Homo sapiens: one gene and its partner. The protein of the gene in region 1 interacts with the protein of each later gene in a pairwise test. Each region holds a gene or a part of one and is shown in the gene's direction. Other genes may lie near its edges.

Region 1 (7,025 bases):
CCTAAACATGCGTGTGCAGTTTAACAACACAATATGTGCAGGCATGAGTGGCTAATCCTATGTGAAAGTCAGCAGCTCTTTGGGTTAAGGGGATGGGAAAAAAAACTGAACTTCTGAAGCCTCCGAGTCAGGCTGCCTGGGCACATGTCCTAGTTCTGGCACTTAACACCTGTGTGACTTTGGGCAAGTTACCTCACCTTTACCTCAGTTTATCCTTTGTAAAATGGAGATAATATTATTTCCCTGAGGATTAAAGGAGTTAAAAAAGATTATGTACTCAGAACAGTGCCTGGCCCAGAGTAGCCACAATAAAAGGTTGAGGTTTTCAATGTTGCTTTTGTTTTTTTCCTAGGTACTTAATACTGGTTCTGTCATGTAATATTCATAACTATTCTTTGAGAGAGATAGTACAGTGGTCCCCAATTACCCGTGGTTTTCTTTTCCAGGGTTTCAGTTACCCATAGTCAACCATGGTCTGAAAATAGGTGAATATGGGGCATTTTAAGAAAGAAAGAGACCATATTCATGTAATTTTTATTACATTGTTATAATTATTCTATTGTTAATCTCTTACTGTGCCTACTTTACAAATTAAACTTTATAACAGGTATGTATGTATAAAAAACAACATAGTATATATGGGGTTCAGTACTGTCCAAGGTTCAGGCACCCACTGGGGGTCTTGGAACATATCCGTGGAGGATAAGGCAGACTATTATATTGCTCTTCTTTTCCAGATGAGAACACAGGCTCAGAAAGGTTTAGTAACGTGGCCAAGGTCACACAGCTAAATAGCAGAAGCAGGGTTTGAACTCAGGTCTTTTTGACCTTATACTAAATACCACACCCCCACCAATGGGGAGGAGGGGCAGAGAAGTTGTTAAATCTGATTTTTGTTATGACTTTTGGCCTCTGGCAAGGAAATAATTTCATATCACCCTGTATCTCACAGTTGAAGATGACAGTAATTGCCAGCCTTGAGGAACACTATGTAAATTATTTTATTATTAAAGATGATTCAATCCCACATATGTGGCATGAAAGTGGATCTAGCATGAACACTGCTAGGGTTAACATAAGCAGTTTAATTTATGCCATAAACGAAGAGATTTACTAGGTGAAAATGTGGGACTATATGGTGAGAAAGCAAGCCAAGCCACAGCCAGGGACAAGGACTTCTGGTGGCTGGGGATGAAGTGAAGCTCTAGCATAGACTGTGTGCTCGCTTCAAAATTCTGGGGAGCCCGGGGTTGCAGAGTCCAGTAACCACCTGTGGACAATCCCCTCCTTGAAGGCAGGAACCACACTACCTGGGCCTTCAGTCCCGGCACTCAGTGGACGTTTTAGTCCATGTTTGTTGATGATGTTGCTGCAAGAACTCAGCAGAAGAGGAGCTACAGGTAAAGTGAACAGAAAGGCACTGGGCTGTGTCCATGGCAGAAGTCAAGCCCTGTTACAGTTCAGCATATCCCCTGGGCCCTGCTAGATAAGAAACACACAACAAGGAAACCTTTGAAACCTTGTCCTTACTGCTTGCCCCGGAAAACCCACAGGGCCTGCCTTGGCCTCCACTGCTTTGATGCTCTGGGTTTGTGATTAGCTGTGGGGATCAGCTCCAGAGACTTCTCAGATGGAAACAGGGTTCTGGAAAGGACAGTCCGAAGTAACTCAGGTAGCCTCAAAGCCAATGGTTACAGTCTTGGAGCTGTCCAATTCCATTTGAAATCTTCTCCTGTCCCCACCTCTTAAAGGCTACAAAACAAAACAATACCCCACAAACCAGAATAAGTAGCCATGTAGTTCTAAAGCAATAGTCAGGTGTGTTTCTTTCCTTAAAAAAAAAAAAAAGCTTTCTCCTTGATATACTTCAGTGCCAAGTTTCATCAGAATCACATGATGATGGACTGAATTTGACAGTACCTCTGGTAGAAAAGCAGTTTTCAAATTTTAACCATACAGTTTTATAATACAAAGCATGATGCTGAGATTTAAAAGATTACTATTTCTAAATAGCCAAGTAAACTGTGTGAAAGCTGATGAGTTCCAAACTAGTGTTTGCTTAGTCCTTACTGCTTGCCTAAGTCATGAATTAATAGAATTCTAGAATCCCAAATTTAAAACTTTTTAAAAAGGATTTTCAGTGGATTGGGTTTTATTTCCATATTGGATAAAGTTATTATTAGCCTTCTAGCCTTTGGCCCTTTGTTAAACCATGTTGCAGAGATCACACACCTGCAATTAGGTAACAGGGTACCGCCTAAAGTGTACCTCGAGCCATGAATGTCATAAAAGTATTCTGTGGGACCCCAGTTTGATGAAGGTCCCTTTCTGCAGGACTTCTCAGAACATTTAAAAAGCCAGTGTATATAGTGAATCTCCACAGGGAGGTCGTGTCCAGAGTTTCTCAAATGGTTTTGCCCACTGAGCAGCTGCAGGACCAGCCTGGCAGGAAACACACTCTGGGAAACACAGAACAGAAGCTACATAACCGCAGTATGTCCTACAGAGCCGAAGCAACCCAGGGACATTTTAGTTAGAGAACCACAGGCGTTACAGGAAGAGAGCGATGAGGATGTACCAGGAGATCCTGGCAAACGCTGATAAAACTAATGGAGAATTAAGTGAGGGCAATCAAAAGGGGTGTCTGTGTGTAGAAATAGAGATTAAAAAAATACCAATTCTGGTCTTAGCTCTGACCCAAATTGTATAACCTTGACCTCTTGGGGTTTTCTTGTTCTCATCCCTAAAACGTAGCATTTGGTGAGAGATGATCTCAGATAATCTCTGGCTCCAGAACAGTGAGCCAGGATCAGTGGCACCTATTAGCATAGCTATCTTACTACTAATAATGTAAGACTCTGGGTTGAAAAACAGACCCGTGCAGATCTCTGGCAGAGCAGCCTGAGCAAGCGTGGAAGGCAGGGAACTTCCAAGTCAGGCCTCTATTTAGACAGCTTCCACATTTGGGAATCCGTCATGTTCTGGTGACAACCTGAAGGTCCTATTTGTAGACACATCATGCCAATGATAGATCGTTGTCATGAGTTTAGTTGAAAAAGAGCTTTTCTGTCCAAATACATCATAATCATTTAGGCTACATACATTTTTTAAAACAAGCAGAGGCATTTTTGGTGAAATGTGGCTTTGCCATTCAGAATGTGTTTGATTTCTCAACCTTTTTATTTATTTTTTAAACTTTTGTTTTGCCAAGGGTCAGTTCAGACTTAAAACATTGATTTTAACACAGCGGGAGATGAGGCTCTAAGCCTTTGGCTGACCAGCTAGTCAGAAAACAAATCCTTCCCCTTCTCTGGGCAGGCTCCATCCCATCACCTGTGAAAAAAAATGGCAGAGTGGGAGGGTGGGGATGGGAAGGGAGGCCAGAGAAGTGTGTGGATGTTCCCCAGGCCCTCTCCTGGCCCTAAACTGTGATTCTGTTCCTCTTTTTTCTTGTATCAGAGGCATTTCCATAGTGTCTTGTATCTTCTCCTATTGTAACACTTACTACATTTAAGTTATCTTTATATATATATAAAGGGGAGTTTATTAAGGAATGTTGACTCACATGATCATAAGGTGAAATCCAGTAATAGGCCTAACTTTTAGGTCCGGGGCTACATGTGCAGGTTTGTTACGGAGGTAAACTCATGTCACGGGGTTTTGATGTACAGATCATTTCATCACCTAGGTACTAAGCATAGTACCTGATCATTAGTCTTTCTGATCCTCTCCCTCCTCCCGCCCTTCCCCCTCAATTAGGCCCCAGTGTCTGTTGTTTCCCTCTTTGTGTCCATTTGTTCTCATTTAGCTCCCACTTACAAGTGAGCACATGCGGTATTTGGTTTTCTGCTCCTGCGTCAGTTTGCTAAGACTAATGGCCTCCAACTCCATCCATGTTCCTGATTGACGCAAGTGCCTGCCTAATTAGACTACCGGCTCCTCAAGGATAGGGACTGAATCTCATTTATCTTGTCATTCATCTTTGCTGCAGTAGGACTTAATGACAAAGTGGGCAGTATAGCCCTTGCTATACTATCTGATTCTTTCTGTAGCATATCTCCTCAGTTGTTGTCAGGTCAGAAATCTTTGTCGCTTACTTGCTGTATTAGTCAGGGTTCTCTAGAGGGACAAGACTAACAGGATAGATGTATATATAAAGGGGAGTTTATTAAGGAGTGTTGACTCACATGATCATAAGGTGAAATCCCATAATAGGCTGTCTGCAAGCTGAGGAACAAGGAAGTTAGTCCAAGTCCCAAAACCTCAAAAATAGGGAAGCCAACAGTGCAGCCTTCAGTCTGTGACCAAAGGCCTGAGAGCCTTCTGGCAAACCACTGGTGTAAGTCCAGGTCCAAAAACTGAAGAACTTGGAGTCTGATGTGTGAGGGCAGGAAGCATCCAGCACGGGAGAAAAATGAAGGCCAGAAGACTCAGAAAGTCTAGTCCTTCCACGTTCCTCTGCCTGCTTGTTTTGTTTTGTTTTGTTTTGAGATGGAGTCTCACTCTGTCGCCCAGGCTGGAGTGCAGTGGCGCAGTCTCGGCTCACTGCAAGCTCCGCCTCCCAGGTTCACGCCATTCTCCTGCCTCAGCCTCCCAAGTAGCTGGGACTACAGGCACCCTCCACAACGACCGGCTAATTTTTTGTATGTTTAATAGAGACGGGGCTTCACCGCCTTAGCCAGGATGGTTTCCATCTCCTGATCTCATGATCTGCCCGCCTCAGCCTCCCAAAGTGCTGGGATTACAGGCATGAGCCACCGCGCCCGGCCTCCTCTGCCTGCTTTTATCCTAGCCACGCTGGCAGCTGATTAGATGGTGCCCACCCAGATTGAGGATGGGTCTGTGTCTCCCAATTCACCGACTCAAATGTTAATCTCCTTTGGCAACACCCTCACAGACACACCCAGGAACAATACTTTGCATCCTTCCATCAAGTCGACACTCAGTATTAACCACCACACTAGCTTATTTTTAAGTCCTGCTGTAGTAAAGTTACTCCTTCCCAGGCTACAGAACATTCAAATGCAAGGGGAGTCACCCCAGTCATTTGGTTGTGGTGATAGAGATCATCTGCGGGCCCTGTGGAAATAGGTCAAGCCCCTGCTGGAACCTTCTCAAGATCTCCGCGGAGAGATTGGCAACCCCCACCAATGCTTTCTCGTGCCCTGGGAGTGACTGAGGCAACTTGGCACCCATGTGTCCACTTAGAGCACAGAGTAAGGGTCCTTGTATTTCCTATTGCTGCCTAGACCTCTCGCCAGCCATTAACGAATAAATAAACATGAGCCATTTATTTATTTGTTATATTAGCGTCAGTCTCTCCACAGTGGAGTGCATCATTGCTGCGGCCTCAACTTCTAGAATAGTGCCTGGCACTTAGTAGGCCCTCCATGGATGTTTGTTGTTGAACACATGAGGGACCAGCCAGGGGCTGGGGAGGCACATGGAAGGTTGGTTTGTTTTTTTTGTTTTGTTTTGTTTTGTTTTGTTTTTGAGACCGAGTTTCACTCACTCAGTTGCCCAGGCCAGAGTGCAGTGGCACAGTCTTGGCTTACTACAACCTCTGCCTCCCGGGTTCAAGAGATTCTCCTGCCTCAGCCTCATGAGTAGCTGGGATTACAGGCACCCGCCACCACACCCAGCTAATTTTTGTATCTTTAGTAGAGACTGGCTTTCACCGTGTTGGCCAGACTGGTCACGAACTCCTAACCTCAGGCGATCCGCCCGCCTCGGCCTCCCAAAGTGCTGGGATCACAGGTGTGAGCCACCGCACCTGACTGTGAAAGGCTTTCTAAAGCTGGCTTCCCATGGGTTGAACTGGCGAGAGGCACATGGCTCACTCTGTGCATGTCGCAGCACCAACTAGAGCCTGTTTTCTTGCTCTCAGACGGCTTCAGAATGAAATGTCTTCCTAAAGAGTGTTGATTTTTGGCCTTCTATTAAGTTTAGTGTAAGTTTATGCTGGTGATGGGGATTTGTTTTATATTCCTTGTGGGCTCACCCTGGGATGGTGGTGCTTTACTTGCCAGCCTGGGGGAGTGAGGTTCAGAGAGAGGTCTCTCAGGGTGGTGCAGGGAGTAAAGCAGGGACTTCTTTCAAATTCCGTTCTTTTTTCAGAATGGGGAATTAGACTATTGAACCCAGAACATTTGGGAGTTTTTCACACTGTATTTAAAACAATCAGTTTAGGTGGCCAGATCCCAAGGTCTAAAAGGAGTAAGGTTAAAAGGAATCCCCACCATGAGCTTCCAGCTCATCTTCTTCCTTATGCAGCTCCAGCTTTTTGGGGTAATTTATAATGAACATTACCCCTTCCATTGATATGGGCTCATTGCCTGCCAGGTGCTTTGCCAAGCACTTTATGCTCGTTGTTACCCAGGAAGACTCCCACCTTTGCCATTTGCACTTCACAGATGGGGACACTGAAGCTCCCAAAGGGAGTCACTACATGGCTCAGGACCCTTAATTTAATACCAGGAAGGATGGGAAAGGGTGATGAAAATTGTATTCGCTGGTAAAAAGTATTTTGATTCTAAGGCTAGTCTTACTTTCCTTAAAAACATTACTTTTTTTTTTTCTTTTTTGGAAACTTCCTAGACGCTAGATGTTTCTGCAAATAGAATCACAGAGCCCTACCATTTGACAGATGGAAGGGACCTTATCTCAGCCCCAGTCTCATTCTGACATGATAAAACCAAGGCCTTAAGTGTTTAAGTGACACAGAGCATGAATCTTCCTCCTAGGCCCAGCTCTGTCGAACTTTTTTTTAAGCCAAGGAAAAGAAAATCTTAAGCCTGATATATAAACAGATAATAACATAATTTCTTTGGTTAAAAAGGAGAGAGATTGGCCCTACTTATCACGTATTTAAGAAAATAACAACATGCCCTTTTGTTTTTTCTCTTCTCTCATACATCACTAATTCTGGTGGGGTCTGTCCAGAGTCCGTCAGATGGCTATGACTTTTTCAGCCACCTCCTCGTGCTGTCAGCTCCCGGTAGCCTTGCCGTCCAGTTTATAACGCC
Region 2 (7,025 bases), on another chromosome or scaffold:
CACAGTGCTGGGATTACAGGTGTGAGCCACCACGCCTGGCCAGGAATACTTTTTTTTTTTGAGACAGAGTCTAACTCTGTCACCCAGGCTGGAGTGCAGTGGCACAATCTCAGCTCACTGCATCCTCCGCCTCCTGGGTTCACACCATTCTCCTGCCTCAGCCTTCAGAGTAGCTGGGATTACAGGTGCCTGCCACCACGCCCAGCTAATTTTTGTTTTTTTGTTTTTGAGATGGAGTCTTGCTCTGTTGCCCAGGCTGGAGTGTAGTGGCATGATCTCAGCTCACCACAACCTCTGCCTCCTGGGTTCAAGCGATTCTCCTGCCTCAGCCTCCCGAGTAGGTGGGATTACAGGCGTGCGCCACCACACCTGGCTAATTTTTGAGGAATACATTTTTTAAGCCATCTGGTCTGTGGTAGTTCATGACAGTGGCCTGAGCAACCTCAGCCCCACCTGAGGTGGCCCCAGGGAGAGCACCTGGCAGTCTTTGCCCTTTGCTGCCCCCAGCACTAGGCTACCATCATGACGTTTCTGGGTTTCTGACATTTGCCAGTTTGCCCACAAGATGGCAGGCACCGCCCAGCTGTTGGGGTTGAAGCAGCTCATAGGCCTTGAGTTGCTGACGGCCCAGTGCGGTCAGATCACTGGCTACAGGGACAGAAGGGAGGAGTTACTACCCCCAAGGTTTCTGGCTACAGGGCCCCCATCCTGTCACCCGCCTTCCCAAACAGTACCCTGATTCCTCAACCATGGCCACATCTTAAGCCACCTGGGGCCAGTGCTGGGGCCATCCTAGGGCCAGGTGACCTTGGTGGATGTGGCCTCCTGGCTTTGGTGGTTCCTGGGCTCCCAGGTGATCGTAGTGAGCCCTTGGGGTTGAAGAGCAATGCTCTCCCACCCCGGGGACACACATGCGTCCTGATGGTAGGATCGTCCCTGGAAGTCGAGGAAAACCACAACGGTTCCAGAGCCTCACGTCAGGGTCACGGTCTGCACATTTGTTGTTGTTATGCTTCCCGGCACTCTTGTCTCTCCAGTGCACTCTGCAGCCTCTGAGCACTTCCGCACGCACAGTCTCCTGGGCACCTGCATTTCACACAGGGGCGGCTGAGGCCACCCTGGTGCCCCCGATGGCGCCCCACTGTGTCCTCACTTTGAAAGCCCAACAGCCAGCTTTTGTCTCTTTTTTTTCCCTAAAGATAGACAGGGTCTCACTCTGTCACCCAGGCCAGAGTGCAGTGCAGTGGCATGATCATAGTCCACTGTAGCCTCGACCTCCCAGGCTCAAGCGATCCTCCTTCATGAACCTCCTGAGTCGCTGGGACTACAGGTGCATGCTACCACACCTGGCTAATATTTATAATTTTTTTATGGACACAGGGTCTCAGACCGGGCACGGTGGCTCATGCCTGTAATCCCAGCACTTTGGGAGGCCGAGGCGGCTGGTTCACAAGGTCAGGAGTTCAAGACCAGCCTGGCCAATATGGTGAAACCCCATCTCTACTAAAAATACATATAGTCGCGGCTACTCGGGAGACTGAGGCAGAAAAATCTCTTGAACCCAGGCGGCAGAGGTTGTAGTGAGCCGAGATACACGCCACTGCACTCCAACCTGGGTGACAGAGCAAGACTCCATCAAAAAAAAAAAAAAAAAAAAGACTATGCTTTTTGCTATGTTGCCTATGCTGGTCTCAAACTCCTGGGCTCAAGCAGTGCTCCTGCTTTGGCCTCCCAAAGCACTGGGTTTACAGGTGTGAGCCACCACACCTGGCCTGTCTTTTTTAACTGAGGGTGGCATGTGGCCCTGGGCTAGTCACCTAACTGAAGTCCACCTCAGAAGGTTGATTGAGAGTTACTTATTTATTTTTTATTGAGATGGAGTCTTGCTCTGTCACCTAGGCTGGAGTGCAATGGCGTGATCTCGGCTTACTACAGCCTCTATCTCCCGGGTTCAAGTGATTCTCTTGCCTCAGCCTCCTGAGTAGCTGGGATTATAGGCGCCCGCCACCACACCTGGCTAATTTTTGTATTTTTAAGTAGAGGCGGGGTTTCACCATGTTGGCCAGGCTGGTCTGGAACTCCTGACCTCTAATGATCCACCCACTTCGGCCTCCCAAAGTGCTGGGATTACAGGCATGAGCTACCATGCCCGGCCTATAATATGTTTCTTTGCATACTTGAAAAGGTACATATTTCACCTGTCCATCCCATTTGCAGGTGGGGCTCGATTTCTGCAGCCACCACCCTCCGCATGCCTTTGACATTCTTCTAGGAGTTATTTATTTAGATGGCATCTTGTTCCAAATCATAGCCAGATACCCACTCTGGCTACCAGGGCCTGAGCAGAAGCTGCTGGGTCCTCTTGGCAATGGCAGCCTGAGTCAGGCTGGGGCCAGGTCTGCGGCGGCCTGGGATGAGGACACGTTTGACATCCACGCTCCTCCCTCAGGCTGGGGAGAAGGAAGAGATGTGGCTTGGAATCTGTGGTTCTCGGCTTCAGAGGACAGGGCAGAGTGACTCCCCCTGGTTTGGGCACTGGGTCCTTTGACCCTGTGCCTTGACAGCTGGCAGGCCCTCTTGCTGACAGCCTTCTCAGTCCCCTCTGTTTAGAGGTTGTTGGAGTGGCGATGCCAAGGTGGCTGGGCCCCTTCCCAACTGTACTTTCCTCTCGAAGCCCCCAGGGGCCTGGGCGAGCACCCTCAGGCCATGGGCTGAGCTGCACTGTGCCCACCTGCCATGGGCACCCTGGGAAGTCAGCCAGCCTCCGGGGGCAGCATGCAAAGCTGTGTTCTGGAGAGCGGTCCCAGCCTCCCTCCCTGGCCTGGGCTCAGGGGCAGCTTCATTATCATCCCAAAATGGATGTTGCCACAGGTTACCTCCCTCTTGCTCCTCAGTTCTGTGCAATGGCTGGGCTGTGGGGGTGTGGCCCAAGTACAGAGCCATTCCCAGGGTCTCCCCTGGCCAGGGCTGGGCACAGATGTCACCACACTGGGGCAGCCAAACTGAGCTCAAAATGTCTTGAGACAAAAGCAGAACAGAATCAAGCCACAGTGGCCCCATGTCCAGAGGTTAGAGGTGCGGGTGCCACCCTGGCTTCTTAAGTGTGACTGGGGCAGACACTGAACTTGGGAGCAAGCCTCCTTCCTGGGGTGGTGTCAGCGCGGGATGAGATCAGGCACCCCCCGTGTAGGGTACCCCCAGCAGAGGCCACTCGGGCTACGGAGGATCAGGGCTGGGACTCAGACCTCCAACCCTGCCGGAGAAGCCACCTGTCCCCAGTGTACAGGGGCCTGTCTGTCATGCTCACCCTGTGTGGGCTGCGCTGGGCCTCCCACTGTGCGTCCTGACTCACATTGGTTCCCACAGCTATCAAGCCCAGAGAGAGACGTGGAGAGGGACGTCTTCCTGTATAGAGCGTACCTGGCGCAGGTGAGTGCGGGCCTTGGCCGGGGGCAAGAGTGATGAACAGAGTAGAGGGTGGGGCTGGGGACAGGAAGGCACCACAGAGTGGGTGGCGGGGACAGTAAACAAAGCAGGGACCCAGGCCTGCAGTGTTCAGTGACTGTGAACAGCCAGCGCAGCCAGCATGTGAAGGTGGCTGTGTCACGGAGGCCTGAGACTGCCAGGCCAGGGGGCCTGGGTCACAGCTTCTTGATTTTTTTTTTTTTTTTTTTGAGACGGAGTCTCACTCTGTCGTACTCGATCTCAGCTCACTGCAACCTCCGTCTCCTGGGTTCAAGTGATTCTCCTGTCTCAGCCTCCCAAGTAGCTGGGACTACAGGCGTGCGCCACCACGCCTGGCTAATTTTTATATTTTTAATAAACACGTGGTTTCACCACATTAGCCAGGGTGGTCTTGAACTCCTGACTTCATGATCCACCTGCCTCAGCCTCCCAAAGTGCTGAGATTACAGGCGTGAGCCAACGCGCCCAGCCGATTTTTTTTTTTTTCCTAAAATAATTGGTAGGAGCCAGGCACAGTGGCTCACACCTGTAATCTTTGGGAGGCTGAGGTGGGAGGATCACTTGAAGCCAGGAGTTCAAGACCAGCCTGGGCAACATAGTGAGACCCCCGTCTCTACAAAAAAAAATTAAAAAATAAGACAGTCATGGTGGCATGTGCCTGGAGTCCCAGCTAATTGGGAGGCTGTGGCAGGAGGATCAGTTGAGCCCAGGAGGTCAAGATTACAGTGAGCCGTGATCACGCCATTGCACTCCAGCCTGGACAACATAGCAAGACCTTGTCTCTAAAAAAATAAGAATGGGGGCTGGGCCCGGTGGTTCACGCCTGTAATCCCAGCACTTTGGGAGGCCAAGGCGGGCAGATCACCTGAGGTCAGGAGTTCGAGACCAGCCTCAACATGGAGAAACCCTGTCTCTACTAAAAATACAGAATTAGCCAGGTGTGGTGGTGCATGCCTGTAATCCCAGCTACTTGGGAGGCTGAGGCAGGAGAATTACTTGAACCTGGGAGGCAGAGGTTTCGGTGAGCTGAGGTCACAGCATTACACTCCAGCCTGGGCACCAAGAGCGAAACTCCATCTCAAAAAAAAAAAAAAAAGGCCGGGCGTGGTGGCTCACACCTGTAATCCCAGCATTTTGGGAGGCCAAGGTGGGTGGATCACAAGGTCAGGAGATTGAGACCATCCTGGCTAACACAGTGAAACCCCGTCTCTACTAAAAATACAAAAAAATTAGCCGGGCGTGGTGGCGGGCGCCTGTAGTCTCAGCTACTCGGGAGGCTGAGGCAGGAGAATGGTGTGAACCTGGGAGGTGGAGCTTGCAGTGAGCCGAGATCACGCCACTGCACTCCAGCCTGGGCGACAGAGCGAGACTCCGTCTCGAAAAAAAAAAAAATGGGGAAGGAACCATCTAGGAGGGAACACAATGAGGGACGGGCCCCCAGCTGCAGATGTGACAGTGGTATCAGTCTGGGCATCCTCAGAGGGCCAGTAGGTGGGCAGGGCTGGCTGGGGGCATGTCCTGCTTTATAGAAGCGCATGTCACAACCCCCATAACTGCTGCTGCCCTGCCCCCAGGTGACACGCCCTTCACCTCACCACCAGAGGTGGACAGCTGCCAGGGGATAGACAGTAACCTACCAGGGTCCCTAGCTCAAGGCATGGGCAGTGTGGCCCTGCAGATGAGGGCACACCTGGCTGCTCACGACAGGTGACGCCATGCCACCCTCCACAGTGTACTGCAGTGGAGGTGGCCCATGCTGGGCTGAGGGGTCCCTGGTGGGGCAGGGACTTCCTGTCTGGGGCTCTCCCTGCCAAGCTGAAGACATGGAAATCCTCTGGGGTGGACGGGTGCAGCTGACGCCTCGTCCCTACTGCAGAGGAAGTTCGGTGTGGTCCTGGATGAGATCAAGCCCTCCTCGGCCCCTGAGCTCCAGGCCGTGCGCATGTTTGCTGACTACCTCGCCCACGAGAGTCGGAGGTGAGGCCCCAGAGAATGGGTTGGCCTGAGGCGCGGGGCCATCTTCAAGGCCTGTTGGTTATGAACCTGGGTGGGTGGGGGCATGGCGTGCAGCGCACAGCATCCCTCAGATTAGGCGCCTCTCCCCTCTGCTCCCCTGCTGCTTTGTGCCTCAGTTTCCCTCACCTGCACAGCAGTGGGGGGCTGGTGATGGATCCTGCTTCAAAGGGGAGGGTCAGAGACAGTGCTGTGTGTGCACACGCCCTCATGGACCACAAGGCACTCTCTGAACCTAGAACTGAAAATATCAATTACCGAGCAGCCCTCTGCAACACCCAGAGCCCCAAGACAGCCCAGGGCGCAGCGGGGGCAGGGCCCTCCCATCAGTTTTCTTATTTATTTATTTAGAGATGGAGTCTCACTCTGTCACCAGGCTGGAGTTGCAGTGGTGAGATCTCGGCTCACTGCAACCTCTGCCTCCTGGGTTCAAGTGATTCTTGTGCCTCAGCCTCCTGAGTAGCTACGACTATAGCTGCGTGCCACCACGTCCAGCTAATTTTTGTATTTTAGCAGAGACTGGGTTTCACCGTGTTGCCCAGGGTGGTCTCGAACTCCTGAGCTCAGGCGGTCTGCCCACCTCAGCCTCCCAAATCCTATCAGTTTTCTAGTCCCAGCTAGTTGGGGACTGCAACCTGCCAGTATCTCCCCTGGAGCCCAGTGGGAGGGTGGGTGAGGCCACGCCTGTCCTGCCCCTGAGCCACAGGCCAGCGTTGGTCAAACGCCCATGGGCGGCAGCCAAGGGGAGAGGGGGCTGGGCTGTGGGGACCCAGGAACCTTGCCCCCTCCTGCTGTGGGGTCGGAGTGAGGGTCTGGCATGGGGAGACTGCTGTGATCCTGCTCTTCCTTGGCCCACGGAGGCAGTGTCCCAACTACCGCCTCCCTTCACTCAAAGAAACCTGGGGTTCCTGGGAGCTGACTCCTGTGCAGAGGCAGCATGGTGGGGTGAATGGTGTCCCCCAAAAGGTACGTCCATATCCTATCCCACATGCTTGTGAATATGATATCATTTGGAAAAAGGGTCTTTGCCGATCAGATTAAGAGATAAGGAGATGAAGACATGCTGGATTTAGGGTGGGCCCCAAAGCCAAGGACTTGTGTCCTTTTAAGAGATAAAAGGAGGGCTGGGTGCAGTGGCTCATACTTGTAATCCCAGCACTTTGGGAGGACGAGGTGGGCAGATCACCTGAGGTCAGGAGTTTTCAAGACCAGCCTGGCCAACGTGGTGAAACCCCATTTCTATTAAAAATACAGAATTAACAGGATGTGATGTCTGTGATTCCAGCTACTTGGGAGGCTGAGGCAGGAGAATCGCTTGAACCTGGCAGGCAGAGGTTGCAGTGAGCCAAGATCGCACTAGTGCACTCCAGCCTGGGTGACAGCGGGAGACTGTCTTAAAAAAAAAAAAAAAAAAAGGAAAGAGGCCCACAGAGTTAAGCCCATGTGACAACAGACTGGAGTGACATGTCTGCTAGCCAAGGAGCACCACGAGTGGCCAGCAGCCACCAGAGCTGGGAGAGAGGCCTGGGACGGCCTTGCCCTCCAGC

What was found. Proteins that work in one complex are often made in the same cells at the same time.
Region 2: the proteins of CDC42EP3 (region 1) and COPE interact in binary tests that used the Homo sapiens proteins (3 or more experiments, as listed by UniProt).

What each region holds. Positions count from the first base shown.
Region 1 is NC_000002.12:37,661,637-37,668,661, reverse strand, and holds part of CDC42EP3 (cdc42 effector protein 3), read left to right. Parts: intron 1-7,025.
Region 2 is NC_000019.10:18,909,388-18,916,412, reverse strand, and holds part of COPE (coatomer subunit epsilon), read left to right. Parts: intron 1-3,366; coding exon 3,367-3,429; intron 3,430-5,341; coding exon 5,342-5,442; intron 5,443-7,025. UniProt on the Homo sapiens protein: The coatomer is a cytosolic protein complex that binds to dilysine motifs and reversibly associates with Golgi non-clathrin-coated vesicles, which further mediate biosynthetic protein transport from the ER, via the Golgi up to the trans Golgi network.